Linked DNA regions of Homo sapiens. The protein of the gene in region 2 interacts with the protein of the main gene of each other region in a biochemical or structural test. Each region holds a gene or a part of one and is shown on either strand. Other genes may lie near its edges.

Evidence for each region.
Region 1: the proteins of PDGFRA (region 2) and PDGFB form a complex in vitro, tested with the Homo sapiens proteins (3 studies listed by BioGRID).
Region 3: the proteins of PDGFRA (region 2) and PDGFC form a complex in vitro, tested with the Homo sapiens proteins (2 studies listed by BioGRID and IntAct, with this or other methods).
Region 4: the proteins of PDGFRA (region 2) and PLCG1 form a complex in vitro, tested with the Homo sapiens proteins (2 studies listed by BioGRID, with this or other methods).

The regions. Positions count from the first base shown.
Region 1 is NC_000022.11:39,241,978-39,249,799, forward strand, and holds the start of PDGFB (platelet-derived growth factor subunit B isoform 1 preproprotein), read right to left. Parts: upstream 3,006-7,822; 5' UTR 1,987-3,005; coding exon 1,924-1,986; exon of another isoform or gene 949-1,923; intron 1-948. UniProt on the Homo sapiens protein: Growth factor that plays an essential role in the regulation of embryonic development, cell proliferation, cell migration, survival and chemotaxis. Potent mitogen for cells of mesenchymal origin.
Region 2 is NC_000004.12:54,232,270-54,239,293, forward strand, and holds part of PDGFRA (platelet-derived growth factor receptor alpha isoform 1 precursor), read left to right. Parts: intron 1-830; exon of another isoform or gene 831-1,174; intron 1,175-1,690; exon of another isoform or gene 1,691-2,202; coding exon of another isoform or gene 2,203-2,229; intron 2,230-7,024. UniProt on the Homo sapiens protein: Tyrosine-protein kinase that acts as a cell-surface receptor for PDGFA, PDGFB and PDGFC and plays an essential role in the regulation of embryonic development, cell proliferation, survival and chemotaxis.
Region 3 is NC_000004.12:156,759,954-156,765,823, reverse strand, and holds the end of PDGFC (platelet-derived growth factor C precursor), read left to right. Parts: intron 1-2,617; coding exon 2,618-2,734; 3' UTR 2,735-5,370; downstream 5,371-5,870. UniProt on the Homo sapiens protein: Growth factor that plays an essential role in the regulation of embryonic development, cell proliferation, cell migration, survival and chemotaxis. Potent mitogen and chemoattractant for cells of mesenchymal origin.
Region 4 is NC_000020.11:41,168,539-41,175,562, forward strand, and holds part of PLCG1 (1-phosphatidylinositol 4,5-bisphosphate phosphodiesterase gamma-1), read left to right. Parts: intron 1-228; coding exon 229-332; intron 333-484; exon of another isoform or gene 485-540; coding exon 541-637; intron 638-918; coding exon 919-988; intron 989-1,573; coding exon 1,574-1,731; intron 1,732-3,654; coding exon 3,655-3,751; intron 3,752-3,882; coding exon 3,883-4,107; intron 4,108-4,190; coding exon 4,191-4,339; intron 4,340-4,881; coding exon 4,882-4,996; coding exon of another isoform or gene 4,997-5,113; coding exon 5,114-5,275; intron 5,276-5,384; coding exon 5,385-5,473; intron 5,474-5,585; coding exon 5,586-5,773; intron 5,774-5,928; coding exon 5,929-5,971; 3' UTR 5,972-7,024. UniProt on the Homo sapiens protein: Mediates the production of the second messenger molecules diacylglycerol (DAG) and inositol 1,4,5-trisphosphate (IP3). Plays an important role in the regulation of intracellular signaling cascades.

The DNA.
Region 1 (7,822 bases), on a different chromosome or scaffold from region 2:
TGGGGCCGCTACAGAGGTGGTGAGGTGCCAGGGCCCACGGAGGGCCCACCTGTTGCGCGGGGGCGAGCACCAGGCGCTGGGTGCACGGGGGCCCGTGCGTGCCTGTGTACGTGCGTGGGTGTGCGCGCACGTGTGCTCAGGCCGCGCGTGCAGGGGCCGTGCGTGCGTTTGTGTGCGGTGCGCGCGCGTGTGTCCCGCGTGTGCACGGGCGTGGCAGAGGCGGGCGCGCGACCTGGCCGCGGTAGTGCGTGCCCGTCGCTCTGCGCGCCCGCCCGCCGGAGCGCAGCATCGCCTCCGGCCAGGAGTGTGCATGCGTGGGGTGAGTGAGCGAGTCGGGGGCCCGGGCGGGGTGGGCTGCGGAGAGCAGCCACGGGGCGCCGCCGTTCCCAGGACGCCCTGGCACCGGGCCCAGCCCCCAGGTCCCACGGCGAGGCGAGGCGGCAGCTGGGGCCGGCCGGCCACCCCCTCCCCAACAGCTGGCCGCGGCCCGGGGGGCTGCGGGAGAGGCGGAGAGGGGGCGTCGGGAGGGGCCTGAAGGCGGCCCGGCCGAGCCCCGCGTCCTCCCTCCCGGGTGCGGGCCGCGGGGGGCGGCCGCGGAAGGGCGGGGCCCCCGGGCGGGCGGCCTGCGGCCCTCGAGGAGCCCCGAGAACAAAAGGAGACGGCGACGGCTCCTCCGTGGTCAAAACAACCTGCGCTGGCGGCAGCCCAAGGCCGGGCCGCGGCCTCCGAGCCCTCCGCCTTAACCCCTTCGCCGCCGCTGCCTCCTTCCTGCGCCTGGCTGGAGGCCGCAGGGGCCGACCCTCCCCGGGAGCCGGCGAGGTGCGGGCGAGGTGCGGACTCCCGGCCGCAGCCGGGCGGAGGTGGGACGGTACCCAGTCACGCCGCGCTCCCGGCTGCCCTCTCCTCCCCTCCACCGCGCGCGTCGTCCTGCCCCGCCCCCTTTCCCACCTGGATTCCGGGTAGACTTGCCAACTCACGGCTACGTGAGGCTGGGAGGGGTGGGGACGGCTCCGACCCCAGCGCTCCCTCAGATGTTTTTATACCCCATCTCCCGTGCAGCTAGGCTTTTGCAGGCGGCGCGCTCCGCACCCTGCATGCGGGGGAGAGAGGTGCTTCCTCCTGCAGGGCGCGGGCACAGGTACGGCAAGGCCTCAGGCACACAGCGCCCCGGGGGCTGGATTCCTTCAGAGCCCCTAGTCCTCCCCCTACCCGAGTGCCCGAAACCTACCTGCGTCTCTATCTTTCTCTCCCTCTCTCTCTCCGTCTCTCTCTCCGTCTCTCTCTCTCTCTCTCTCTTTCTCTCTCTCTCTCTCTCTCTCCCTGTTACTCCCACCCCAAACCCCGCGCCCGAGACACAAGCTGCTTCCAGACCGTGCTCTGGGGCCGGGCATGCCCTGCGCGTGCCGGAGGGCGTCCACCCGGACCCCGACCGGGAGCCAGGGTGGGACCCGAGCCCCGTCAAAGGTCGGCGTGGATGGCACCGGTGCGCAAGCTTGCACCTCCTGGGCAAGCCGATGGCAGGACAGAGCCTAAGCCGAGGCTGGCGCCGAAGTGGGCTCGGGAGGACGCGCTGCCTTCTGCACCCTGGGCACCACCCCACCCCCTCTCCCCCGGCCGGGAAGGGGCTTGTTCTCGGGTTCCCAAAGGGTGGGGGACAGGGCCACACACACCCTCCCCCGACACGGAACGGCTTAGGGAGCCAGATTCGCCCGCCGGTTGGAAAGAAAGCCACCGCTGTTGCCTTCCCTTAGAGCCTGTCACCCCCGGACCTCGCTCCCAGCCCGAAGAGGTCACCCAGCGCCCGGCGTCAGGCTCGCGGGCTGCAAGGGTCCAAAGTTCACTGCAGGGAGAGGAGGGGGCGGTCAGAAGGGGGGGGCGAAGGTAATGAATGAAGAACCAGCCCCAGCCGCCGTGGCAACTCACCTCGGCGCTGACCAGACGCAGGTAGCAGCAGAGAGACAGGAAGAGCGCCCAGCAGCGATTCATGCCGACTCCGGGCCCGGCCCCGCGGGGCCCCGGACGCGTAGATCGAGCGCGCCGCCCCCGCGGCCAGGGTGGGGGGCTGGGGAGGGGGGTGGGCTCGGCTCGGGTCCGCGGCGATCAGGCGCTCAGGCCTCTGCAGCCGCGGCTCACCCGCATGGCCCCCGGGCGCCGCCGCCCCCGGCCCCGGCTCCGTCGCTGGGGGGCAGGGGAGGACCTGGGCGCAGGACCTGGGTCCGAGGCCGCTACCTGGGCGGATCCCGAGCCCGAGTGAGCATCCACGGCCGGGGGGCTGCGTCGCGAACCAGCCGAGGCGTCTAGCCGTGTGGGGGCGCCCAGGGGACTCCAACCTCCAAGAGGAAAAGGAACACGGCAGTCGATGGTTCGTCTTCACTCGCCGGCTACAGGCGTTTTCCTCTGCCCGCCGGCTTAGCTTTTTTGCAACATTTTCTGGAAAGGCCCCCAAAATCGGAAAGCGCGGAGCTGGGCACCTCAAGGCCCAAGTCTCCCCCAAAAAACTTTTTCCAAAGTTGGCTTTGCAACGGCAGCTCGAGCACCCGGGCAGGGAGAGGTGCAAACTCCCGCCCGGGCCGGGTAGGGGGGCGGGAGCGTGTGCGCCCTGGCGCGGGGCCCGGGCGGCGGGCACGGCTGCTCCGCGCGCGCGGCGTGCCCGCTGCGCGCTCGGCTGGGCCCGGCCGACAGGTGGACGCGGCGCGAGTCCGTCGGTCCGTCTGCCCGCCCGCTCGCCGCTCTGGGCGTCCTCTGCGGGCTGCGGGCTGCGAGCTGCGAGCTGCGAGCTGCGGCTGCTCCGGTTTTCTCTTTGCAGCGAGGCTGGAGGGTGGGCTTTTTTTTTTTTTTTTCCTTTTTGCGCGCGTATGTATGTGTGTGCGCGCAAAGTATCTCTATCTAGGGAATGAAAAATGGGCGCTGGCGGCCGGAGGGGAGCCCTAGGGAGGCAGCGGGGGAGGCTGCGGGTGCGCAGGGAGGCAGGCAGGCCGCTCCCGGCTGCAGGAGGAGAAGTTGCCACCCTTTCAGCTGTTCCGGCCTTTATAAAGGAGAAGGGAGAGTGCGAGAGGTGGGTGGAGACAGCCTTTCCTCTTCTGGCCCGGAGTCAGCGCCAGGAGGGGGGGGACGCGGGAGCTGGGGGAGGGCTTGGGGCCAGGGCGGGGCGCTTAGGGGGTCTCTGAGAGCCGAGCAACCCTTCAGTCCATGAATCTGGCCCTGGGGAAAAAAGAACTAGGGGTGACCCACCGTCCCGCCCCTCAGCACAGTGACCATGGACAGGTTAGGAGCCCACGTGGTCTAGGGGGATGTCTCCAGAGCCAAGGCCAGGAGTCCACGCTCCCCTCCAGGACCAGACATTTCCACCCTGGCACAGGCATGGCAGGGAGGGACTCAGGCTCTGCAGTCTGAGAGCCTGAATTCAGATCCTGCCCTGGCACTCGGGAGCTTGGGTCACCTTGGGCAAGTCACTTCCCTCTGTCCCCTCCATCTAGCCTCAACCTGGAGATGGGGCTATTGTAAGGACTCAGTGTTAGCAAGGGAAGACACCGCAAGGTGAACCCACAGAACCCGGCAGCCAGCGCCCTTCAGCTGCAAGCTGGGTCCGAGTCTCCTCCTCCTAGCTGGTTGCCTGGCACAACAGGCCCTGCCAGCGTTGGCTGAATTTGAATTTGTTGAACTGCAAAGTCACACAAACCCCCACAGCCCTGCAGCATCTTCGCAGGGCTACCAACATGATCTTCCCGTCAGTCACCCTGCTGTTTACTATCTCCCTCAGCCCCCGGGTTCGAGGCCCAGAGCCCACCCACCCACAACCAGCCTTCACACAGTTAACGCCTTCTGCCCCCAGTCAGGGAGCTGCTGTGTCCCTGCCTTCAGCAGTCACACTGTCTCAGTCACAGTCACACGTACTCACACTGGGCCCAGCACCCCCCTCGGGACACGCAGGCTCCTGCATCACCCAGCCTCCCGGCTTTGAGGCACCCTCATCTCCTCCGCTTGCACTGTCTCTGTTATCCGCCCTTCCCTTTGGGATGTCAGCCTGCTTCTCACAGAGGAGCACACTGAGAGAGTCACACCTGCTCTCTCTTCATAGACTGTCTTCTTGGACCTGGACAGGGTGGAACAGAGGAGGAAGGACATCTCAGGTGGTCTTTACAGACCACTGCAGGCACCCACCCACTGCTGCCTACCACCCAGCAGCGTGGCACAGTGGCAGAGACACAGCCTGAAGACACATCACCTTGGTCCAAATCCTGGAGTGGCCACTTGCTGGACAAGTGTCTGCAGGAAGGTTTTTTAACCTCTCAGTACCTCGGTTTCCTCCTTTATAAACTGGAGATGAATTTATAAACTGGAGCTGGGTGTGGTAACAAGCTCCTGTAGTCCCAGCTACTCAGGAGACTGTGGATCGTTTTGAGCCCAGGAGTTTGAGGCTGCAGTGAGTTGTGACTGTGCCACTGCACTCCAGCCTGGGCAACAGAGCAAGACCCTATCTCTAAAGAAATAAAAATAAATCTATAATGGGAAGGAGTGAGAGAGAACAGAGAGGCATGGCAAAATTTTAGTGGTGATGGAAATGTTTGTCATTTTTGATTGTGGTGATGGGCTTATGGGTGTATACGTACATCACAACAAAATGTGTGCAGTTTGTTGTACCTCAGTGCAGTTGTAGAGAATTTTTACCCTGCTCCTGGAGTGGTCTGGAGGCTCCCATGAGGTCCTCCATGTGGAGGCGCTCAGCAAAACACCTTAGCAGGAAGCAAGCGCCTGGAACCTTCCATGCAGCCTTCAAGTTCACTGGTGGCCCCGCACTGCTCCAGGCACTGGGGAGACAGGTGTGAACCAGCCTAATGCAGGCCCCTGCCTTTGAAGAGCCCCATTGAGAAGGACAACCAGATGTATAAACAGATAAATTAGGAGACAGGGTGACAAGGGAGATGGGGCAGCGGGACGAGGAGATAACCCCCAAACACTAGATTTGAAGTCTAACGACTCAGAGATAAAAACCCTCTTCCACCGGACAGCTGGGTCATTTGACCTTGACCTTCTGTGTCTTCTATAAATAGAATGGTAACAACTACCATGATTAGTGAGCTGACTATGTGGTAGCTAGTGTTTTTCTTACTCTACCTGTAGCCTCTCCATGCTCCTGTGAGATGTGTTATTCCTATCTTACAGATGGGGAAATGGAAGCACAGAGAGGCCAATACACTTGTTCAAGGTCACACAGCCCGTAAGTGGTAAGGCCAGGACTTGAATCTGAGCAGTCCAGCTACAGAGCCCACATGCTGAGACCACCGTGCTGTGCAATTTTCTGGCAGGTGATGCTGATGACAATGATGACACTTTTGACACAGCGCTTTGGTGAGCGCCACATGCATTAATATGTGGGAACCTGCTCTGCCAGCTAAAAAGTGATGGACCCATATGAACTCTGACTTAGGTACAAGTTGAGGGAGAGGGAAGGCTACTCAGAGCAGCATCGTAGAACGCCTACTGTTTGCAGACCCTGTGTGAAGCGCTGAGAAATGGAATGAGGAAGGAGTCCCAGCCTCGGCACTCAGGGACTTCCCATGCTCTCAGTGAGATAGACCCAAATCATTGCAGTGCAGGTGCCAGTACATGGGTTAGAAGTGGCAGAAGAGGGCCCAGCAGACACCTGGGCCTGAATGCTACGTGACACCTGCGTGACACCTGGGCCTGAATGTTGTGCTAAGGGCTCCTTTCTTGTACCTTCTCTGTGCAGAGGAACAGTCTGTAAAGAACACCTCCCCAGGCACGGTGGCTCACCCCTGTATTCCCAGCAATTTGGGAGGCTGAGGCCAGAGGATCATGTGCAGCCAGGAGTTCGAGACCAGCCTCAGCAACATAGCGAGATCCCATCTCTTAAAAAAAATTACCAAAAAAAAAAAAAAAAAAAAAAAAAAATATATATATATATATATATATATATATATATATATATATATATATATATCTGAGTGTGGCCCCAGCTACTCAGGAGGCTGAGTCAGGAGGGAGAATCCCCTGAGCCCAGGAGTTCAAGACTGCAGTGAGCCATCTCAGAGACGGGGTCTCGGTCTGTCGCCGAGGCTGGAGTGCCGTGGTGCGATCTCTTCTCACTGCAACCTCTGCCTCCCAGGTTCAAGCGATTCTCCTGCCTCAGCCTCCCGAGTAGCTGAGACCACAGGCGCCTGCCACCATGCCCAGCTAATTTTTGTATTTTTAGTAGAGACGGTTTCACCATGTTGACCAGGGTGCTCTCGATCTCCTGACCTCAAGTGATCTGCCCCACTCAGCCTCCCGAAGTGCTGGGATTACAGGCATGAACCACCACACCCAGCCTAAAAATTTTTTTTTAATAACACCTGATCGTCTGCCTCCTGCCAGGCTGGGTGTAGCAGGCACCTCCTCCAGAAGGCCCACCAGGCTTGGCACTTGTTCCAGGCTCCACAGCATGCACACCTGGCATCGTCATGGCCTGATCATCAATCTAGCACTAGACTGAGTCCAGAGTGTTCAAGGGCCTCCTGCCAGCTCCTAGCATACAGTGGCTGCTCAGGAAGTGCCGCTCGCTGAAGGAATGAATAAATGATTAAAATCCTGCCAATTTCTCTTTCTGAGTCCTGACCAGTTATTGCAGAGATGCCAGGCCCTTCCTAAAGGGTGGAAAGAGTTGGGGAGGGGCTTGTAGCATGAGCCTCTAAGCTTGGAAGCACAGGGCCCCTGAAGGGCACCCCTTCTGGAGGTATCAGAACTGGGAAGGGTCTGAAGCCACACCACCCTGAATGCACGTGGTCTCATCTGACCTCGGAACTTCATCAGGGCTGGGTCTGAGGAGCACTTGAATGAGAGAACTGGGAAGGCCCCCGCCCATCTTCGCGTTCAGGCCACTGGGAAATAAGGTTCTCCAGCAGAGCTAGGGATGGGGGCGCCCACACCCCCGTAACTCTCCACCCTCCACTCCAGGACAGATCTGAGCCAAAGGGAAAAAGAGTGGCCACAGCCGTGGGGGATGGGGGTGCTGCCCAAGGTTGGGGGCTTTTTAGACTGTGTGCTCAGAGCTATCCAAGCCCTCATCCATGAAGAGCATCTTACACCCTGGGCGTGGGGGTCCAGGACACTGGCTGGGGTGAAGAAATACCAAGGAAGGAGTTGGGTTCCATCCCGGGGGCAAACTCACGCCCTCAAGTCCAGAAAGGTGAGAGCGATGATCACTGGGAGCCTCCCCGCCACTGAGAGGGGCCAGCAACACCTGGGCCAGGCAGCTCTGCTTCTCCATACTTGATGGAGAGGAAGTGAGGCTCTAAGCTGGAGACCGTCCAAGACCATGCCACAAATGGTCTGAAACTCCAAGCCCTACCCCACTCCGCGTGGCCCTCATCAGCTCCCCCATGCCCCTTGCTGCCCCATCCCCTGCCTCCCTGTCTACAGGGCCTTTGGCTGTCCACAAAGCACTTCCTTCCCCTCTGCCTGCCTCACCCTCACAGTCGCCCAGGGAGAAGGCATTGCCATCGTATATGCCCATTGTACAGATGAGGAAAGTGAGGCTGAGAGAGGGCAAGGGACTAGGCTTCCCGTCAAAGACCACCTGGGTTCAAAGCCCTGCCCTACCATCTACTAACTCTGTGACCTTAAGCAAATTCCTTAACCTTCCTGAGCCTCACGTTCCTCCTCTGTAAGTCGTAGGGACAATAGTCCCTACCTCACTGGGTTAAATGAGTTAATTCACCTGAAGTGATAAAGCCTGGAGTGAGCACCCCACAGATGTTGGTCATCACAGTGATGGTTATTACTGCAGGCTCTGCGCGCGCGCGCACACACACACACACACACA
Region 2 (7,024 bases):
GATGCAGGATCGGGGGCAAATGGCTTCTCCCAACTTCCCCCTAATTCGGGTTCTGCCAGATGGTTGTCGTTTGCTGAAGTGGCTCGGCGGCATTTCCTTTTGTTTTAAACTGATCAATGAGCGAACCTGGGATGGGCTGAAAAAGTAGATTGTAGGAGGGAATAATGGGAAACCCGACTTGGGGCGCCTCCTTCCCTGCCTCCTACTGCAGTTTCTCGGCCCCCGCGAAAGGGGAGCGACAAGCGCGGGTGGGCGCGGACTCTTGAGGGGGCAGAGGCGGCTATGGCGCGTGTCGGGCAAGGTGGCACCAGAAGGCACTTTTGTGTGTGTGTGTGACAAGAGTCTCGCTCTGTCGCCCAGGCTGAAGTGCAGTGGTGCGATCTCGGCTCACTGCAACCTCTGCCTCCCAGGTTCAAGCGATTCTCCTGCCTCAGCCTCCCGAGTAACTGGGATTACAGGTGCCCGCCACCACGCCAGGCTAATTTTTGTATTTTTAGTAGAGACGGGGTTTCACCATATTGGCCATGCTGGTCTCGAACTCCTGACCTCAGGTGATCCGCCCACCTCGGCCTCCCAAAGTGCTGGGATTTACAGGCGTAAGCCACCGCGCCCGGCCAGGAACGGTTCTTAAATGCCGAGAGGGCGCATGCTAGCTCTCCTCAGCATTCCCGGTGAGCCGCTACCCACGGCCGTGCGGCTCTCGTGCCCATAGGAGGCGCTGGCGAGCTCCTGTAACCCTAAACCCCTCGGCCCCTTTCCCCCCACCCGCCCGGATTCTCTTCCCGCTCTCCCCCCTCTCTCCACACCCGCCCGGCCCCCTCTCGGGTCTCAGTTGAAAACAATGCAAACGCAGAGCGTCGTGCCTGGGGCGCAGCGGCCTCTGCAGCTCTGAGGTTCAGAGCGCGGCGCGCAGGGGCGCAGGGGCGCAGGTCCCCGGAGCGGCTGGGCATCGCCGCCAACCCCGGGACAACCAAGCCGCCGAGGACTTGGTGGAGGTGGGAGGGAGAGCGGACCGCGCAGTGTTCCTCTGGGTCCCGGGGTCAGAAGCCGGACAGTGGCGGGGGCTGGACAGTCCGAGCGCAGAGCCTCCCGGGCGAAGTCTGCGCGCAGCACTCCCGGCTGCGCTGTCGGGGACCAGGAGCCTGGGCTGCGGGCGAGCTAGCTGGCGAGCCGGGTAAGATTCGCGGGGCTGTCGCGCCCTCTAGTGGGCTCCGGGGACGCATCCCGCTTTCCCCAGCCCCGGGCGGTCGGCGCCGCTATCTCAGTGGAGCGCAGCGCTGGAACCCCGGGGGCCCGGAGCGGAGGCTAATCTGGGTCACCTTTCCCCTCCTCCGGGCAGCCAGTGGACTCCTCGCAGGCTCTGTGTGGGCCCGGGAGGCGCCGGGTGGACGAGAGGGGGCCGAGGTCTCTGGGTTTGGATTGAGAATGGGACGTCCTTGTAATTCAATGTGGGAGAAGCAGGGGAGTGTGGAGGAGGACGGGTCCCGTGCGTTCTTGGGGGGCAGGCGCCGTCTTCTGCGTTCCAGCCCCTCGCCAGCTCCCTTGCCCCGCGGGCGGCCTGTTGCTGTTTGTTTGTTTTACGACCCTGCGTTATTGTGCAACGGTAACAGTCGTTTCCAATCAGCTGCGCGGCCGTCGCGGCCCTCGCCAGGCTGGTTTATGGGGGCGGCGGTGGCGCGCGGACAGATAGGACAGCGCGGCCCGGGAACGGCGTCGAGGTCCAGGCGGTCCCCCTGCCCCGAGGGGGCGGAAATGCTGAGGTGGCGAGAGCGTGGGTTGCACAGAACCCTAGTAGCGAGTCCGGCTGAGCCTCTGCGGCCTAGCCCAGCAGCGTCGTCTTCCCGGCTCCGAAGACGTCTTCCCGAAGCCCCGCTGCCCCGGCGCACCAGCTCCCGGTGATGGGGATGATGATGGGGATGATGGGGAGATGTCCCCGAATTCTCCTGGGGTCCCGAGGAGATTTAGCCATTTTCAACAGCAGTTTTCCTATTTCTGCTTAAACCCCGCGGGCTTTCAACTGAGGTCACCACGAAAGCTAAAAGTACAACCTAAGGAAGGAAGAGACTGGAAATTAACATTTGGGGTAGTGGAGCTCAGAATTCCTCGCAGCGGCGTCTGTGTCGCAACCCGTGGACGCACGTCCTTGGACCAACACTGCCATCTGCTGGCCACTCGTAAGAACTACTGCGACCCGCTGTGAGAATGGGCTTCGCGGAGACCATTAGGAAGGTGCTTTATTTTTTATTTTTTATTTATTTTTTGCTCAGTAGGACCGTAATAGGTGACTGATTTTCTTTTGCTGTGAGGCTACAAGAATTGCTGGAAGACAACATTTTTATTTCGTGGAAATTTGTGTTGTGTTTCTCCTTGGTTGTTAATGCTTTGCATTTACATAGTGAACATCTTATTATCAGAGCTGGCCTGTGAGGAGGGTAGTGGGGGGGCATTGATGTTCCCGTTTCTGAGTGAGGAGACCTATGTCGGGGCCTTGGTGACCTCAAGCCGAATGCTCAAACTGCTACTGCTACTCCTAAGGTTGTGCCATTAGGAGTCACACCCGTTTGGTGATATTCAAAAGGATATGTCATTTTATTCTCCCGTGGTTAAATATATGGTGAGAGGAGAGCAGGCATGTTTATGAGCCCAGATTGTCCCATAAAAGGCTCCTGTTTAAAAACACTCCAGCCCCCTCCCATTACTGGAATGTCTGATGGAGCTCCGGGAGATCAAAACAACAAAACAGGCTCTGGTAGGGTGCAGAGGTCCTGGTAAACACACCCTCTGCTGGAAAACAGGGAGAAGTTTCCACCAGTGTAGACCTGCACTTGGTTTGCCTGGGCTGAAGTTAGGAGACTGCGTAGAAAAAGGAAAATGTGTAATTTTCACAGTTAGAATTAACTTAGGAGAGCTGAAATTAACTGAGCCTCGGAAATCTGAATCTTGAAGTCACCAGTGGCTTTTGGGGCTGTGAGAGAGTCTCCTGTGGTCTTTAATCATGTGAGGGTGGGGTGAAATTCAATATTCAGTGGTTCTGCAATGGGATGCACTGTGCAATTGGTGATTGAGAAGCCAACTCTCTGGCTTTAGGAGAAGAATGTCTTGCTGTTAGTCCTTCTGGAAATAGAGCCTTGCATTGCCTACTGTCTGTTTACACTACCTTTGCACATTGCCTTTGGTTATAGAGTCATGTCCAATGGCTCTTTACTTCTGTTTGCAGGGCAGGAGATGGCACCCTGTTAAAGAGAAAGGATAGTAGCTGCAAAGTCATTTGTTTCTCTGTTTCTGTGACTGTATATATTGGCTCATCTTTGAATGGTCTTTATAGCCACACCAGGCTGGAGGTAACAGGGTCATGGGAGTGGACTGCTGGTGTGGGCTGAATCAGAGTTCAGATCCATGTCTCCAGGAGGTAGGAGGTGCAGGGCAAGTCATGTGGCTTCTGGGGCATCCCTCACTTTCTTAGTTAAGGAGAAGTTGAAGGAGCCGATCTAAAATATCTTGGGAGTCTGCAGAAAAAGTCGTGAAAATCAAAGCACTTTCAATTAAACTATATAATTTAGTCCTTACAAGAATGCCACAGGGCAAGCAACCAGTCAGGCCTTGGTAGTCGTGCTTCCTAGAAGAAAAGACTGAGGTTCAGAGAGTTGGATAGAGTATCAGATTTGGGATCAGTGGCTAGTCCAATGTGATTTCCATCCTTTCTTCTGAGAGAAAGCATAAGAAGGCCAAGAGGATGGTGGAAAAGCACAAGTCACCTGCCTGAGAGTCAACAGGGCGGGGGGTCTCTTTCTCAGTTTGTTCCTCTAAGTTATGGCAAATGTTTTTTGAGCTGTGATTATTGAGAATGGGGGCTGAAGTTCAACATGTAGTTGGCATGAGGGAAGTAATTATGATTGAAGAAAAGATTTGGGTGAAATCTAGTGTTCTTCCCTGCAAAGGGGGTTGTTCTCACGGATTCTTATGGTGCCATGTTTCTCAGAATTTGTAGTTTCAGTTACTTATATTTGCACACCTGACTTTAGATGAGCTCCAGAATAGCAGTTACTAATTAAGGATGAGCATTTAGAGTAGATAAAAGTGGCAGGAACAGCAAGACTCACTCCCAGAGAGCCTCACTACAGGTCTAATAGGTGAGGAAATTCCCCATGTTTCCCATTTTTCTTCATTACCTCCCTGTGGGGCAAGCACTGCCATTATTCATGAGTAAACTGTCTGAGTTATAGATAAGTAATGACATGAAACTTCACAAACACGCTGAGCACAGTGGCTCACGCCTGTAATCCCAGCACTTTGGGAAGCCGACGTGGGTGAATCACGAGGTCAGGAGTTCGAGATCAGCCTGACCAACATGGTGAAACCCTGTCTGTACTAAAAATACAAGAAATTAGCTGGCCATGATGGTGGGCACCTGTAATACCAGCTACTCGGGAGGCTGAGACAGGAGAATCGCTTGAACTTGGGAGGCAGAGGTTGCAATGAGCTGAGATCATGCCACTGCACTCCAGCCCAGGCGGCAGTGCAAGACTCCATCTAAAAAAAGAAAAAGAAAGAAAGAAAAAAGAAAAAAAGAAAGTTCACAAACAGGCCTGATTTCTACCCAGGGAACCACTGTTATCAGAGATTGGGGTTTGGAATCTTAAGCAACAAACACATGTTTATTCTCTTCCTTCCTGATGGCTTGCTCAGAGGACCTGTTTCCATTGCCCACTTTTTTTTTGAGACAGAATCTTGCTCTGTCACCCAGGCTGGAGTGCAGTGGCGAGATCCTGGCTCACTGCAACCTCTGCCTACTGGGTTGAAGCCATTCTCCTGCCTCAGCCTCCCGAGTAGCTGGGATTATAGGTACCTGCCGCCATGCCTGGCTAATTTTTTGTATTTTTAGTAGAGATGGGGTTTCATCATGTCGGCCAGGATGGTCTTGAACTCCTGACCTCAAGTGATCTGCCCACCTCAGCCTTCCAAAGTGTTGGGATTACAGATGTGAGCCACCACGCCCGGCCTCATTGGCCACTTTATATGTCAGTAAATAATCTTTCCTGGCAGAGGGTCCACTGTATCTGGAGGCACTGAAGGAAATCTGGGAGTGTCTGGCCAGGGCAAAGCACTGCTTAGAGCTTGCACAGGAAAAGCAGTGAGCCCTTCTTTTAAGCTGGAGAAAGCTTTAAAGATGCATCTTTGGCAAGTCTTGCCAAAGAAATATGGGTTCTAAATGTGATAAAACCAAAGACATCAAGCTGGCTCTGGAGGCCTTGTTTGAAGTTTGCTGAGTGGATTGTCAGTGGGAGGCTGATATTTATATGTACAAACACACAAGCATTACTGCTAATTGTGGTAAATCAGGCTGGCCAGCCTGGCTCTGGGGCCCACTGTGCCTGCCACCGCAGCAGTGTGGAAGCCTTGCATCCCAGGCACATGTCAGGATCCTCGGAGGCCATCAGCCAGCCAGCATTGTGTGAATTGCATTTGGGTTCACAGCACTGTAATTGTGTTTCTCCTGCTGTGGTGAGCAAAGGAGGAAAATGGAAGGAGGAGGTATAATTTGCCCTAGGAAATAGTCAGGCAAGTAGGTGGCACACAGGGGTGGGATATGGCTAAAACACTGACCTTCCCTTGAGAGAGACCATATGGTGAAGTGGAGAGGGCATGGCGTTTGTATCACACGACCTTGTGTTCAAATCCTGGCTCTGTCACTGGCTGTGTGACTTTGGGTCATTTGCAAAACCTCTCTGAGCCTCAACTGCCACTTCTTAAAATCAGCTCTAAGTAATCACAGGGTTATTCTTCACAAACACAGCATGCACATGCAAACTTTGGCTTAGTAAATAATGGTTTCTCCTTCTCTTACTTTGTTTTCTACATACCCCACTCCCCTTCCTGTGAGGAGCCTTCCACCTTTTTCTCTGTGTTCTCTTCCTCTCCCATTTTCCTGGTAGCATTCAATAAAACAGAAATCTGATTTCTGCAAAGTAGGCCACCTTACGGTAGAAATACATGATTAGGCCCCACCAAAAACTTTGATTAGGCTATTATCTTCTGGATCCTGGATCCCCTCCAACCAAACCAAACCCAACTAGGGCTAAACACAGCAATATATGAATACATTGAATTTCTCTCTCACTCTTTCTTTTTTTTAAACCAGTTTACTCAGGAATCACATGCACACATATTTTAGCTTCCAAAGCCAATGATGGAACAAATTGTGTCCCATTAGGCTCACTCCATTGTATGAGTTAGCATCAGAGGAGTTCATACCAGAGTGACTTCATCTTGAATAGGGCCTAGGTAAGAAGAGGATGAGACCTGCTGGGCTGCATTCCCAGGAGGTTACACATTTGTAGTCACAGGAGAGAAAGGAGTTGGTATAGGAGTTGATAGATACAGGTCATAAAGACCCCAGTGATAAAACAGGTTGCAGGCCAGGTTTGGTGGCTCATTCCTGTAATCATAGTACTTTGGGAGGCCAAGGCAGGAAGATTGCTTGAGCCCAGGATTTCAAGATGAGCCTGGACAACATAGTGAGACCTTGTCTCTACAAACAATAATTTTAAAAACATGAGCTGGGCATGATGGTGCAGGCCTATAGTCCCAGCTACTGGTCTGAGGGGCAGTTGGGTGGCAGGCTGAGATGGGAGGATGGAGGCTGCGGTGAGCTGAGATCAGGCCACTGCACTCCAGCCTGGGTGATGGAATAAGACCCTGTCTCAAAAATAGATAAATAAATAAATAAATAAGCCAGCAAAACCAGAATGCAGTGAAGAAGCTGGCCAAAACCCACCAAAACGAAGATGGTGATGAAAGTGACCTCTGGTCATCCCTACTGCTTATTACACACTAATTATAATGCATTAGCATGTTAAAAGACACTCCCACCAGTGCCATGGCAGTTTACAAATGCCATAGCAATGACCAGAGATACTCTATATGGTCTAAAAAGGGGAGGAACCCTCAGTCCTGGGAATTACCTGTCCCTTTCAGGGAAAACTCATGAATCTTCTACCGCTTGTTGAGCGTATAATCAAGAAAT
Region 3 (5,870 bases), about 100 Mb from region 2:
CCTAGTCTTATTCTTTGGTTATGGTAAATGATCAATAAAGATTTAATGAATTTTGCCCTGAAGCAGGAAAGGTATTCTGGCCAAAAGATCTACAGGATACTCTGACAATAGTAAAATATTCGTTCCTTTTTCTCTGTTCTTACTTGGCTTAATAATTTTCATCTTGTTTATATTTTTACATATTTAATTTTTTATGAAATAATAGTCTTACATTCTTACATTATGTCTGTTTGTTTTGCACAGACAAACCTAAAAATCTGTAGCATTCAGTTGCCTGATTCTAGTGCTGAATCCCTGTTCCCAGTGCTCTGTGGTTCTCAAAAGTTCAAGGTCATTTTGTTTGAACGTGTTGAGCAATGGTCCATGAGCATTTGTTCCTTGCCGGTTCTCTCTGTGTCTTATCTACTATCTTCCACAATCTCTGGCTCAGCTTCTCCCTGGACATTCCTTTTCATGGACTTATCATTTTAATTTCAACCTCTCCGTCTAAATTTTCTGAGATGAACATTAGCCCTGTTTCTTTTCTGGTGGCATAATCTATGTCCTTTTCCTCTTTAATATTGTCTGGGACCTGCTGATCATTTTCCAAGTCTATTTTTCTCCACCAAAGTCAAAACTTTCAAAATGAATTAAAAACAAGAACACTAATTGTGTCCTCCACCATTAGAATTTCTTATCCAGGACTTAAGTTTCTAGAACATAAGAGATTCTTCTGCTATTTGTAAATCTCCATGAGCATCAGCAGACAAAGACAGGAGACTTTGATTCAGCAAATGCATCTTGGCATATGCATGCTAGAGGAAGCAAGGATTGCAGCCTGGCCTGACTGTTAGGACCGTGTATGGTGGCCTCTCTAATCTTTACCTTACATAGTAATTTTTTTTTCCTTGCTGAATGGGAAAATGCATACAGGTGGACATAGGAATTGAAGACGTTGTCTATGCCAATATTGCAATTTATCTTACCCACCCACCCAATCTCATTCCAGAAACAATTTGCAGCAAGACTGTGATAAGGAATAGTGCCAATATCTGAAATGTAGTTAGTCTGACACACTAAATTTTTCAAAAATAATAAATCAGTACTAACATAAAATAGTATTCAGTAGCCATTGAGTTAAATTTCACATTAAAGAAATAAAGTCAAAGTAATTTTTATTTTAGAATTGTGAAATAGATGAGAAAACTACTTTAAAAGTTTAGAATTTCTAATAGTTATTACAAGACTTTGAAGTTTATCTCTTCAGGAAGAAAGTTACTAAATAAATAGAATGTATGAGCAGTGATATTCTGAGTCTATAAAATTATTATCTATCTCTCTAATAATTCATCTCTGGGCTAGGTACAAATAAAGGCTGTGTCACTTACTCTGTCTAAGCCTCTGTTCACTCATGTGTAAAATAGGGGTAATAATTGTAAATTACTTCATAGAATTCTTGTGAGTTAAAGTATGTAAAAACGTTATTATTGTGCCTGGCACCCAGTAAGCATTCAAAAAATGTTAGCTAATTAACCTCTGATATTACCACATACTCCAGTGAGGTATGCATTCTCTGTTTTTCTTTTAAGTCTTTAAATAGAACAGTCATAAGACTTGACTTGTGCCTTTTTGGATTAATGAACATTTTTAGGACTGGTAGCTTTTAGAAATGGCTTTATGAGGTTATCTATGTCGTATCCAAAAAGTAGAGATGCTAGAAAATTTCATATTATTTTGTGCTCTGGCCTTTGTTCATAATCCAAACAAAATACAATTTCCTAAACTTTATTGTTTCTATCATAAGAAATAAAATGTAATACACTTAAATAGGTAGCAACACCAAATACTTTAATTAATATTTTATAGAATACACAACTGCATCTTTTTGTCATAGTATTAAGAGGAAATATGTGTAGCATAAGTGTCAATCTTGCTGTATTTTTATTAAAACCTTGACAATCTGAACTGCAGATAACTTTATTTAATAGAGGCATCATTGTTATTATTGCCAAACCTCTTCTCACTGCACAGTAGGATCCAGCTGCAGGAAGTTAGCTGTGACTGGGGCTGATGTCTATGAAGTACATCTAATCCATCTCATCAAGTTTATAGAGGACTTGAAGTGTAGCCAAGAAAATTAATGAGTGGCATAATTGAGCAGACTCAGCTGTGGAGTGATCATGTTTCTTTCCACAGTATTTCTGCACTTGAGTGTATTGCATCAAGTATAAATATTTGTTAAATGTGTGAATAAATGAATGAATGAAAGAAAGCGACAAACAGAAAAACGAATTTTATATTGGTAGTTCCAAAATACTTAAGGTGAAATTCTAAAATAGTCAGATAAATAAAATAACAATTGCGTGGTGAGTCTTTCCATTTAAGTACTGTTCCTTATTCAGAGACAGAATGCTTCCAAATTGTTGGCATTAAAATGTCTGTGCTTTCATGAAATGATGATTTTTTTTTTTTTTTTTTTTTGGTGGGAGAGTGTTTTCATAATGCGTGCTCTAGGAAAAATTAAAATATGTGTCTTTCTTGGGCCCCAAGATTCTTTTCTAAAACGTTACTTGTTTATAAAAGCCAGTCATAGACATTCGTTGATTTTTAAAAGTGGCTTACTCTTATTCCCTTTCAGGTCCTTCAGTTGAGACCAAAGACCGGTGTCAGGGGATTGCACAAATCACTCACCGACGTGGCCCTGGAGCACCATGAGGAGTGTGACTGTGTGTGCAGAGGGAGCACAGGAGGATAGCCGCATCACCACCAGCAGCTCTTGCCCAGAGCTGTGCAGTGCAGTGGCTGATTCTATTAGAGAACGTATGCGTTATCTCCATCCTTAATCTCAGTTGTTTGCTTCAAGGACCTTTCATCTTCAGGATTTACAGTGCATTCTGAAAGAGGAGACATCAAACAGAATTAGGAGTTGTGCAACAGCTCTTTTGAGAGGAGGCCTAAAGGACAGGAGAAAAGGTCTTCAATCGTGGAAAGAAAATTAAATGTTGTATTAAATAGATCACCAGCTAGTTTCAGAGTTACCATGTACGTATTCCACTAGCTGGGTTCTGTATTTCAGTTCTTTCGATACGGCTTAGGGTAATGTCAGTACAGGAAAAAAACTGTGCAAGTGAGCACCTGATTCCGTTGCCTTGCTTAACTCTAAAGCTCCATGTCCTGGGCCTAAAATCGTATAAAATCTGGATTTTTTTTTTTTTTTTTGCTCATATTCACATATGTAAACCAGAACATTCTATGTACTACAAACCTGGTTTTTAAAAAGGAACTATGTTGCTATGAATTAAACTTGTGTCGTGCTGATAGGACAGACTGGATTTTTCATATTTCTTATTAAAATTTCTGCCATTTAGAAGAAGAGAACTACATTCATGGTTTGGAAGAGATAAACCTGAAAAGAAGAGTGGCCTTATCTTCACTTTATCGATAAGTCAGTTTATTTGTTTCATTGTGTACATTTTTATATTCTCCTTTTGACATTATAACTGTTGGCTTTTCTAATCTTGTTAAATATATCTATTTTTACCAAAGGTATTTAATATTCTTTTTTATGACAACTTAGATCAACTATTTTTAGCTTGGTAAATTTTTCTAAACACAATTGTTATAGCCAGAGGAACAAAGATGATATAAAATATTGTTGCTCTGACAAAAATACATGTATTTCATTCTCGTATGGTGCTAGAGTTAGATTAATCTGCATTTTAAAAAACTGAATTGGAATAGAATTGGTAAGTTGCAAAGACTTTTTGAAAATAATTAAATTATCATATCTTCCATTCCTGTTATTGGAGATGAAAATAAAAAGCAACTTATGAAAGTAGACATTCAGATCCAGCCATTACTAACCTATTCCTTTTTTGGGGAAATCTGAGCCTAGCTCAGAAAAACATAAAGCACCTTGAAAAAGACTTGGCAGCTTCCTGATAAAGCGTGCTGTGCTGTGCAGTAGGAACACATCCTATTTATTGTGATGTTGTGGTTTTATTATCTTAAACTCTGTTCCATACACTTGTATAAATACATGGATATTTTTATGTACAGAAGTATGTCTCTTAACCAGTTCACTTATTGTACTCTGGCAATTTAAAAGAAAATCAGTAAAATATTTTGCTTGTAAAATGCTTAATATCGTGCCTAGGTTATGTGGTGACTATTTGAATCAAAAATGTATTGAATCATCAAATAAAAGAATGTGGCTATTTTGGGGAGAAAATTATGTGTGTGTGTGCTCAAGATTTATTTCTTGGACTCTGAGAAAATGAAAGATAAAATTTTCTGTTATGATTTTCATTTAGCAAAAGCATATGTCAATTCAAAAGACAAAAAAAGGGAAGATACCTGTGAGCCTTCTCTGCCTCTTGTTTCCAATGCCTTTGAGCAATGGTTTTATTTTTCTTACTGGTCTTAATACAGATTTCTGGTAATTTAAGTTTCACCTGACTTGAAAGTTGTATGGTTTATGAAATGCTTGGTGATAGGTGGTATGGTAGTATGAAACTGGAAAAAAACTTGCAGGTTTCCACTCATGTCTTCATTGTCACTGGCAACTACTAAATGGGGTGAGCATAAATTGATTTGGTGCATGGATTATTGTACATTGCACACTTCAAGATATGGTTCCTCAGTTCCAGACATAGATTCCTATTCAGGGCTGGTATCTTCAGCATCCTTTCCTCAGCCTTTCAACTTGGCAGAGATGTCTAGTGTCCAGGGCCTTCTGTCTTCAGACTGCTCTTCAGGCAAGCACCCTTTTCCTGTGCTTTGACACCTGCAGTTCTGCCCTGCCTCCAACTATGTGGAAAACAAAGAAACAAAATGAGCCTATGTGTTCTGTCTTACTTCCTTACCTTTTCCTGGTTTTGTCCTATCCATATAGAGGCCAACTAGATATATGGAATATGCAACGTAGTAAGTAGTTGGCAGTTTACAACTTTCATTAGTATAGTAAAGACTACTAAGTCTTAGTAAATAGCCTGTTTAACTGTGTTTAATCCATTGTTTCCCATCTTTGAACGAAATATATTTTCCCTTTTTTAATATTTATTTTTTGTTTACTTATAAAATCTTGACAGCCAGAAGAGATCATAAGGGTAGCAGTCCTCAGTTGCCAGTCGGTGAGTGGTTACCATGTGAGGACTAACCACTTTATAATCACTTACTCATAGATCGTCCTGTGTATTTTACTAAACACACACACACACACACACACACATAAATAGCACATGACCCTAATTTCTGAGAAGTACAGTAAGTATTGACTGTATTGACCACACACCGTTTTGTGTATGATATCTGTTTCAAGCCTTTGTCCTTGAGACATGGGCTGTTTTGCCCAGTGATGTTTACTAAAATAAAAGCAAGCCTTAAATGTCATGAGGCAGGTGTTCATGTCTACATTTTTCATTTCTGCATCCCATTTCTACATTCCCTCCCTCATCTAATAATTCTCATGTGCACTTGGTAAAGGTGCAAAGACCAAAGTAATGAGAAGCTACACTGTGAGAAACATCCTGGCTATGACTTGGTTACCCTCGGTGCATCCCTGTCTCCAGGTGCATTGACCATGGTTTGGTTACCCTCGGTGCATCCCTGTCTCCAGGTGCATTGACCGTGGTTTGGTTACCCTCGGTGCATCCCTGTCTCCAGGTGCATTGACCGTGGTTTGGTCCCTCGGTGCATCCCTGTCTCCAGGTGCATTGACCATCGTTTGGTTACCCTCGGTGCATCCCTGTCTCCAGGTGCATTGACTATGGTTTGGTTACCCTCGGTGTATCCCTGTCTCCAGGTGCATTGACCGTGGTTTGGTTACCCTCGGTGCATCCCTGTCTCCAGGCGCATTGAACGTGGTTTGGTTACCCTCGGTGCATCCCTGT
Region 4 (7,024 bases), on a different chromosome or scaffold from region 2:
GGTATTTCACTGGCAGAGGCCCTGCCTCTCTGATCATATCTGTCCTGGAGCTTCCCTGCAGGGCAGTAACAAGAACTATAACTAGGGCCTGTTGATGGCAGTGTCATCTCCCACTGGCCTGACCCCAGGCAGGGAAGCCCAAGCACATGTGTGTGTGCACATGAAGCCCCAGGTTGGCAGTGGCAGGGAGAGCCTTTCTGCTCTGACTGGTGCTTCTCACCTCTGCAGTGTGCAGTCAAAGCCCTCTTTGACTACAAGGCCCAGAGGGAGGACGAGCTGACCTTCATCAAGAGCGCCATCATCCAGAATGTGGAGAAGCAAGAGGGAGGCTGGTAAGCCAGTGGTGTGGTAGGCCCAGAGTCCAAGGGCCCCAGTGGAGCTGGGGCCCCAAAGACATGCATTTGTGATGTGCTTGTCTCCTGTGTGCACCAGCAGTGCCTGCCTCACCCTGGCTTAGGCATGGGAACCCCTACCAAAGGATACCCTCCTCATGGGAGTTCGGGGTGGTTGCTGGAGGTCAGCACCCTGTGGCTCCCACAGGTGGCGAGGGGACTACGGAGGGAAGAAGCAGCTGTGGTTCCCATCAAACTACGTGGAAGAGATGGTCAACCCCGTGGCCCTGGAGCCGGAGAGGGAGGTAAGACCAGAACCACCTGAGTAACAGCATTCCCTATTCCCAGATTCTCCTTGGCATGCCCCCATCACACAGTCCCAAGCACGCACGTGCATGCACAGACACCTGTCACATGGGCTGGTCGCACAGCCCATGTGGCCATGCACGTAGTCTCCCATATACCTGTGCTACATTTGGCAGTCACAGGTACACCCACAAGATGTATTTGTCCCATGCACACGGATATCCCCTCACACACATATGCAGTAGCCATGCTGACCATTGGTGGGCTTTGCTTCCCACAGCACTTGGACGAGAACAGCCCCCTAGGGGACTTGCTGCGGGGGGTCTTGGATGTGCCGGCTTGTCAGATTGGTGAGCTCCCATCTGTTTCTCTTGCCCACTGTTCCCTAGGGTGAGATTCTTCTTTGTATCTCTTTCCTGCTCCTAGGGAGGAAGCTGATGGCTGAACCCCAAAGTCTGCCCTCACTCCAAGCTCTCCCCATGCTCTGGACATCCCCTTGACACCCTGGGCTCCCTTTGTCACTGTCAGCTTTGACCCCTGCATGTTTACCTATGCCAGGCACTGGGGAACCCGTCAGAATCAGCAGAACAAAGTTGATGCTGCTGGTTGGCTGACATCCCCAGGCCTAATGGGTTGTACCACAGGGATGTGACAGAGGCTTGGAGATGGGGTGGAGAGGGAGACACGGCCTGAGGAAGAAGCATGAGTCAGAGCTGAGTTGGAACACTGGCTCCACCACAACCAGCAGTGACTTGTTTGAGTTGTAGCGTCGTCATCTGTCAAATGGGCCAGCAGAGTAGTCCTTCCCCTCATGGGGTGTGGGAAGGAGGAAATGGGATGAGATAGAACTCATTTGAGCCAGTGCCTGCGGTGTGGAGTGGGGTGGAGGGGGTGAGATGTCTATTCCCAGCTGTTATCTGCTCTCGCCCTCCCAGCCATCCGTCCTGAGGGCAAGAACAACCGGCTCTTCGTCTTCTCCATCAGCATGGCGTCGGTGGCCCACTGGTCCCTGGATGTTGCTGCCGACTCACAGGAGGAGCTGCAGGACTGGGTGAAAAAGATCCGTGAAGTGGCCCAGACAGCAGACGCCAGGGTGAGATTCTGCTGGAACCTTCTGGGGGGCAGTGTGTGGGCCCGTCAGGCAGCTGAGGCCTCCAGCTCCCAGCACAGGCCCCCTCAGAGCAGTGGGGCAGCCGATGGCCTATGCTAGATAGGCCACAGCCCCTGCCTTAGCTAGGGATTGAGAAGAAACAGACACATAAGATGCAATGTGGTGTGTTTAGGTTGTGTTGAGTTTGAGATACTGATGGGTCGTTGAAGTGGGTCTGCTTAGTGGGCAATTGGATACACAAGACCAGAGGTAAGAGGAGAAGTCCTGGGCTGGAAGCAGGAGTGGAGTGGGGGCTGAGGCATAGAAGGGATGAGGTGGTGTCGCATAGGAAGAGAACTTGGGATGGATTGAGAAGCTCCATATGAGAAGGCATGGGCGAGGAAAGGAGCCCAGGAAAGGCAGGTCAGACAGACTGCAGGCCACTGGTGAGGGAGAGGGTCTGCTGTGTTGAGAGCTACAGAGGTAAAGACAGGAACGATAAGAACTTGCAAGTGCCCTTTGGATTCAGCAGCAGCTAATAGCCCTTGTGAGACTTTTGAGCTGCATCAGCAGCATGGCTGGCATTAGATGGCAGTGGGCAGCAGGGAGTCTGGAATGGCAAAAGCAGAGCCTTTGTAGGGCCTGTCCTTGAGGGAGAGAACAGGTGACTGGGGTTTGAGCAGGCTCTCATGCAGATGGCTGAAAGGAGCGAGCAGCGTGTGGGAGGAGATGGAGCCCAAGCTTAGCTGGTAGGACCAGCCTTCTGGAGAAGGTGGCCTCTTCCCCTGAGCCTGGGGGAACAGAGAAGTATTCTCAAGGGTTAGGGAATTCCTACTTGGTGGCCCTTTCACCAAGTGCATTTGGTAGATGGGTCTGTAGCTGCTTTGGAGAGGGCACCCGCAAGCCAAATAGAGAAGGGATAGGGTGCTTGCCAGGCTGTCCCCTAGAAGGAAAAGGTGCTGGCATACCAGGTGGTTGAAGGACTGGATCTGGGGGTCTAGGCTGAAAAGGGAAGAGTCTGAATGTAAGAGCCACTGAGGCCGGGCGTGGTGGCTCACGCCTGTAATCCCAGCACTTTGGGAGGCCGAGATGGGCAGATCACTTGAGGTCAGGACTTCGAGACCAGCCTGGCCAATATGGTGAAACCCTGTCTCTACTGAAAATACAAAAATTAGCCGGGCATGTTGGCCGGCACCTGTAATCCCAGCTACTCGGGAGGCTGAGGCAGGAGAATCGCTTGAACCCGTGAGGTGGAGATTGCAGTGAGCCGAGATCACGCCACTGAACTCCAGCCTGGGCGACAGAGCAAGACTCTGTCTCAAAAAAAAAAAAAAAAAAAAAAAGCCACTGAAAGAAAGTCCTCCAGGAGAGGATGGGTTGGGGTGCTTGTAAGTGGGCTTCTGTAGAGATTTGGCATGGAGATTTGCCATGAAGAGTGGGTGGTTATATTTGAGTTGGGGGCGCTGAGGCAGTGAGGATCATCCTTAGGACACAGATGGAAACCAAGCCAGGGGCCTGTATCCCCAGTGCAGTCACAGGTAACACAGAAGAATCATTTTTACCCCAGCATGAGGCTGGGTAATAAATGGTCAGAAAGTGTCATTTGGGAGTGTGGCCAATTCCAGGATCCCTGGAAGGTCACTGGGAACATGGGTGGTGATGAGGAGTCTGTATCCCCCACCCCCCCTAAGAGGGTTGGAGGGCAAATGTGTCCTCTGGGACAGAAAAGAGGAAAGATGATTTCAGGATGAGGCTGAGGACAGAGCTCCCTCATTTACTGTTGGGTGTGGTGTCTGGAAGGTACAGGGGAAGGTGGGAGAGGGGCCCAGAGCACCTGCAGTGTGGGCATGCCCAAGGTTGGCAGGGGCTTCCTTCTCCTGGGCAGGGCTGTAGCCTGGGGCTACAGGGCCTTGTGTGTGTCACCAGCTCACTGAAGGGAAGATAATGGAACGGAGGAAGAAGATTGCCCTGGAGCTCTCTGAACTTGTCGTCTACTGCCGGCCTGTTCCCTTTGATGAAGAGAGTAAGGGCCAGGGCCCAGGCGGGGTGTGCATGTGCCTGGAGGGCCTGGTGGGTGCAAAAAGAGTATTTAGGTATCCCCCCAACACTTCCTGGGTGGGCGGGCTCTGTAAGTGTTTTCCCTGTTTGGCCCAGAGATTGGCACAGAACGTGCTTGCTACCGGGACATGTCATCCTTCCCGGAAACCAAGGCTGAGAAATACGTGAACAAGGCCAAAGGCAAGAAGTTCCTTCAGTACAATCGACTGCAGCTCTCCCGCATCTACCCCAAGGGCCAGCGACTGGATTCCTCCAACTACGATCCTTTGCCCATGTGGATCTGTGGCAGTCAGCTTGTGGCCCTCAACTTCCAGACCCCTGGTGAGGAAGTCCCCTGTGAGGAGGGTGAGGAGGGGCACTGTGGGGCAGCTGGACTGGAATACACCATAATCTGCCTCTTCCAGACAAGCCTATGCAGATGAACCAGGCCCTCTTCATGACGGGCAGGCACTGTGGCTACGTGCTGCAGCCAAGCACCATGCGGGATGAGGCCTTCGACCCCTTTGACAAGAGCAGCCTCCGCGGGCTGGAGCCATGTGCCATCTCTATTGAGGTGGGTGCTGCTCATCTGGGCTTCAGGGTAGGAAAGGGGCTGCTTGCCGTTGGAGTCTGTTTATGTTGAGTTCTCCAAAAGTAGGTATTTTCAGGCATCAAGGTGGTCAGGGTGGGTGGGGCCTGAGCTGAGTCTTTGAAGGGGTGAAGATAGCATGCAGTCACTGTATGCATCTAGGACGTGCAGAGCCATGGTGTGACTTGTTCTGATGACTTGTTTTGTTCTGATGAGATCTTTTTTTTCCCTAAGGGGAGGTCATTTAAAAGATTTCTGTGTTAAAATAGTAATGGATTTAACATGAAGTAGATTGCAAAACTCACATGGAAATTTTGGCTAAAGCTCAGACTTCAGATAAACTACAGGCAGCAGCTGCTCTGGACAGCTTAGGGTCCCTGATGTCGTGAGGGACTCCATGGGCAGTGTCCCGGGGGCCCAGCAGAGGGCGCGCTGCCTCCACTCCACAGATGCTGACTGAGCCTCCGCAGTGGGGAATTGGAGGGAGCAGGAAGGACAATCCCAGGCCCTTCTTTGTCTGCCTACAGGTGCTGGGGGCCCGACATCTGCCAAAGAATGGCCGAGGCATTGTGTGTCCTTTTGTGGAGATTGAGGTGGCTGGAGCTGAGTATGACAGCACCAAGCAGAAGACAGAGTTTGTGGGTCAGTCTGTCTTCCCAGTCATCCTCCTCATCCTGCTGGGGCACTGCAAGCCTCTCCCCACCAGTCATCCCATCCTCTCCCACGGTGACCTGAAGCCTTTTGTCGTTGCCTTCACAGTGGACAATGGACTCAACCCTGTATGGCCAGCCAAGCCCTTCCACTTCCAGATCAGTAACCCTGAATTTGCCTTTCTGCGCTTCGTGGTGTATGAGGAAGACATGTTTAGTGACCAGAATTTCCTGGCTCAGGCTACTTTCCCAGTAAAAGGCCTGAAGACAGGTGAGGACCATTCCTGGAGGCAGTGCCCCTGCAATCTTGCTGGCAGGGTGGGGCTGGGCCCCTTGCTCTGTCCCTCGTGGGCTGAGGGCCAGGCTTTTCCTCCTCCTAGGATACAGAGCAGTGCCTTTGAAGAACAACTACAGTGAGGACCTGGAGTTGGCCTCCCTGCTGATCAAGATTGACATTTTCCCTGCCAAGGTATCTGCAGCAGGGGTGGGCTGGCCTGGGGTAGGTGGGAGGAGAGCCAGGCAGCAGCCTCTAGAAGTGCAGAGGAGTCATTGACCCTCTTGTGCACCTGGCTTCGTTGAAGCAGGAGAATGGTGACCTCAGTCCCTTCAGTGGTACGTCCCTGCGGGAGCGGGGCTCAGATGCCTCAGGCCAGCTGTTTCATGGCCGAGCCCGGGAAGGCTCCTTTGAATCCCGCTACCAGCAGCCGTTTGAGGACTTCCGCATCTCCCAGGAGCATCTCGCAGACCATTTTGACAGTCGAGAACGAAGGTGAGGAAGATGGAGGGGTGCTAGAGCCAGGAAGGCAGTGGCTAGGTCCTCCTTCTTCAGTGTTTCTTTCTCCTGGGTAGAAAAGTTGTAATATTGTCTGGCATTGGGCTGCAAGGCCCTGCCTGCCAGTAAGGACACTCTTCCCTTCTGTCCAGGGCCCCAAGAAGGACTCGGGTCAATGGAGACAACCGCCTCTAGTTGTACCCCAGCCTCGTTGGAGAGCAGCAGGTGCTGTGCGCCTTGTAGAATGCCGCGAACTGGGTTCTTTGGAAGCAGCCCCCTGTGGCGGCCTTCCGGGTCTCGCAGCCTGAAGCCTGGATTCCAGCAGTGAATGCTAGACAGAAACCAAGCCATTAATGAGATGTTATTACTGTTTTGGGCCTCCATGCCCCAGCTCTGGATGAAGGCAAAAACTGTACTGTGTTTCGCATTAAGCACACACATCTGGCCCTGACTTCTGGAGATGGATCCTTCCATCTTGTGGGGCCAGGACCATGGCCGAAGCCCCTTGGAGAGAGAGGCTGCCTCAGCCAGTGGCACAGGAGACTCCAAGGAGCTACTGACATTCCTAAGAGTGGAGGAGGAGGAGGAGCCTTGCTGGGCCAGGGAAACAAAGTTTACATTGTCCTGTAGCTTTAAAACCACAGCTGGGCAGGGTGAGAAGCTAGATGCCCCTGCAGTTTGGCCCTGGAGCCAGGGCAGAGGAATGTAGGGCCTGCATGGAGAAGGGTTCTGCCCTGCCTGAGGAGGAGGACACAGCACAAGGGCACATTGCCCATGGCTGGGAACATGACCCAGCCTGAAAGATACAGGGGATCATGTTAAAAATAGCAGTATTATTTTTCGTCTCAATGGTATTGTAACTAAGTTATTTACTCCTCCTGCTCCTCACCCCTGTAGGGAAACCTTGGAGAGGAGAGTGGCAGGTGGGCTGCCTGCTGTGTTAAGAGGACTTAGTTTGTGATGTAAGGCACTGTCAGGAATGGGGGGCGGGCCAGGGTGGGAAGAGAAGAAATAGCAGAGCCTATTTTGGTGAGGTTTTTTGTTTTTAAGTCAAAGAAGACTCAGTATGCTTTCCCTGAGGAATGAAAAAGGGATTGAGGAGTTGCCTGACTCCTGGGTGGGTGGGGTACAGGCAGTTAGGTGCTGAATGAAGCTGCCATCCTTGCTGCAGCTTCTAACTGGTAAAAAGATCCAGGGATGGAGATGGGAAGGTTAGAAAGGCAGCCCTCACCTCTGAGGACAGAGGCC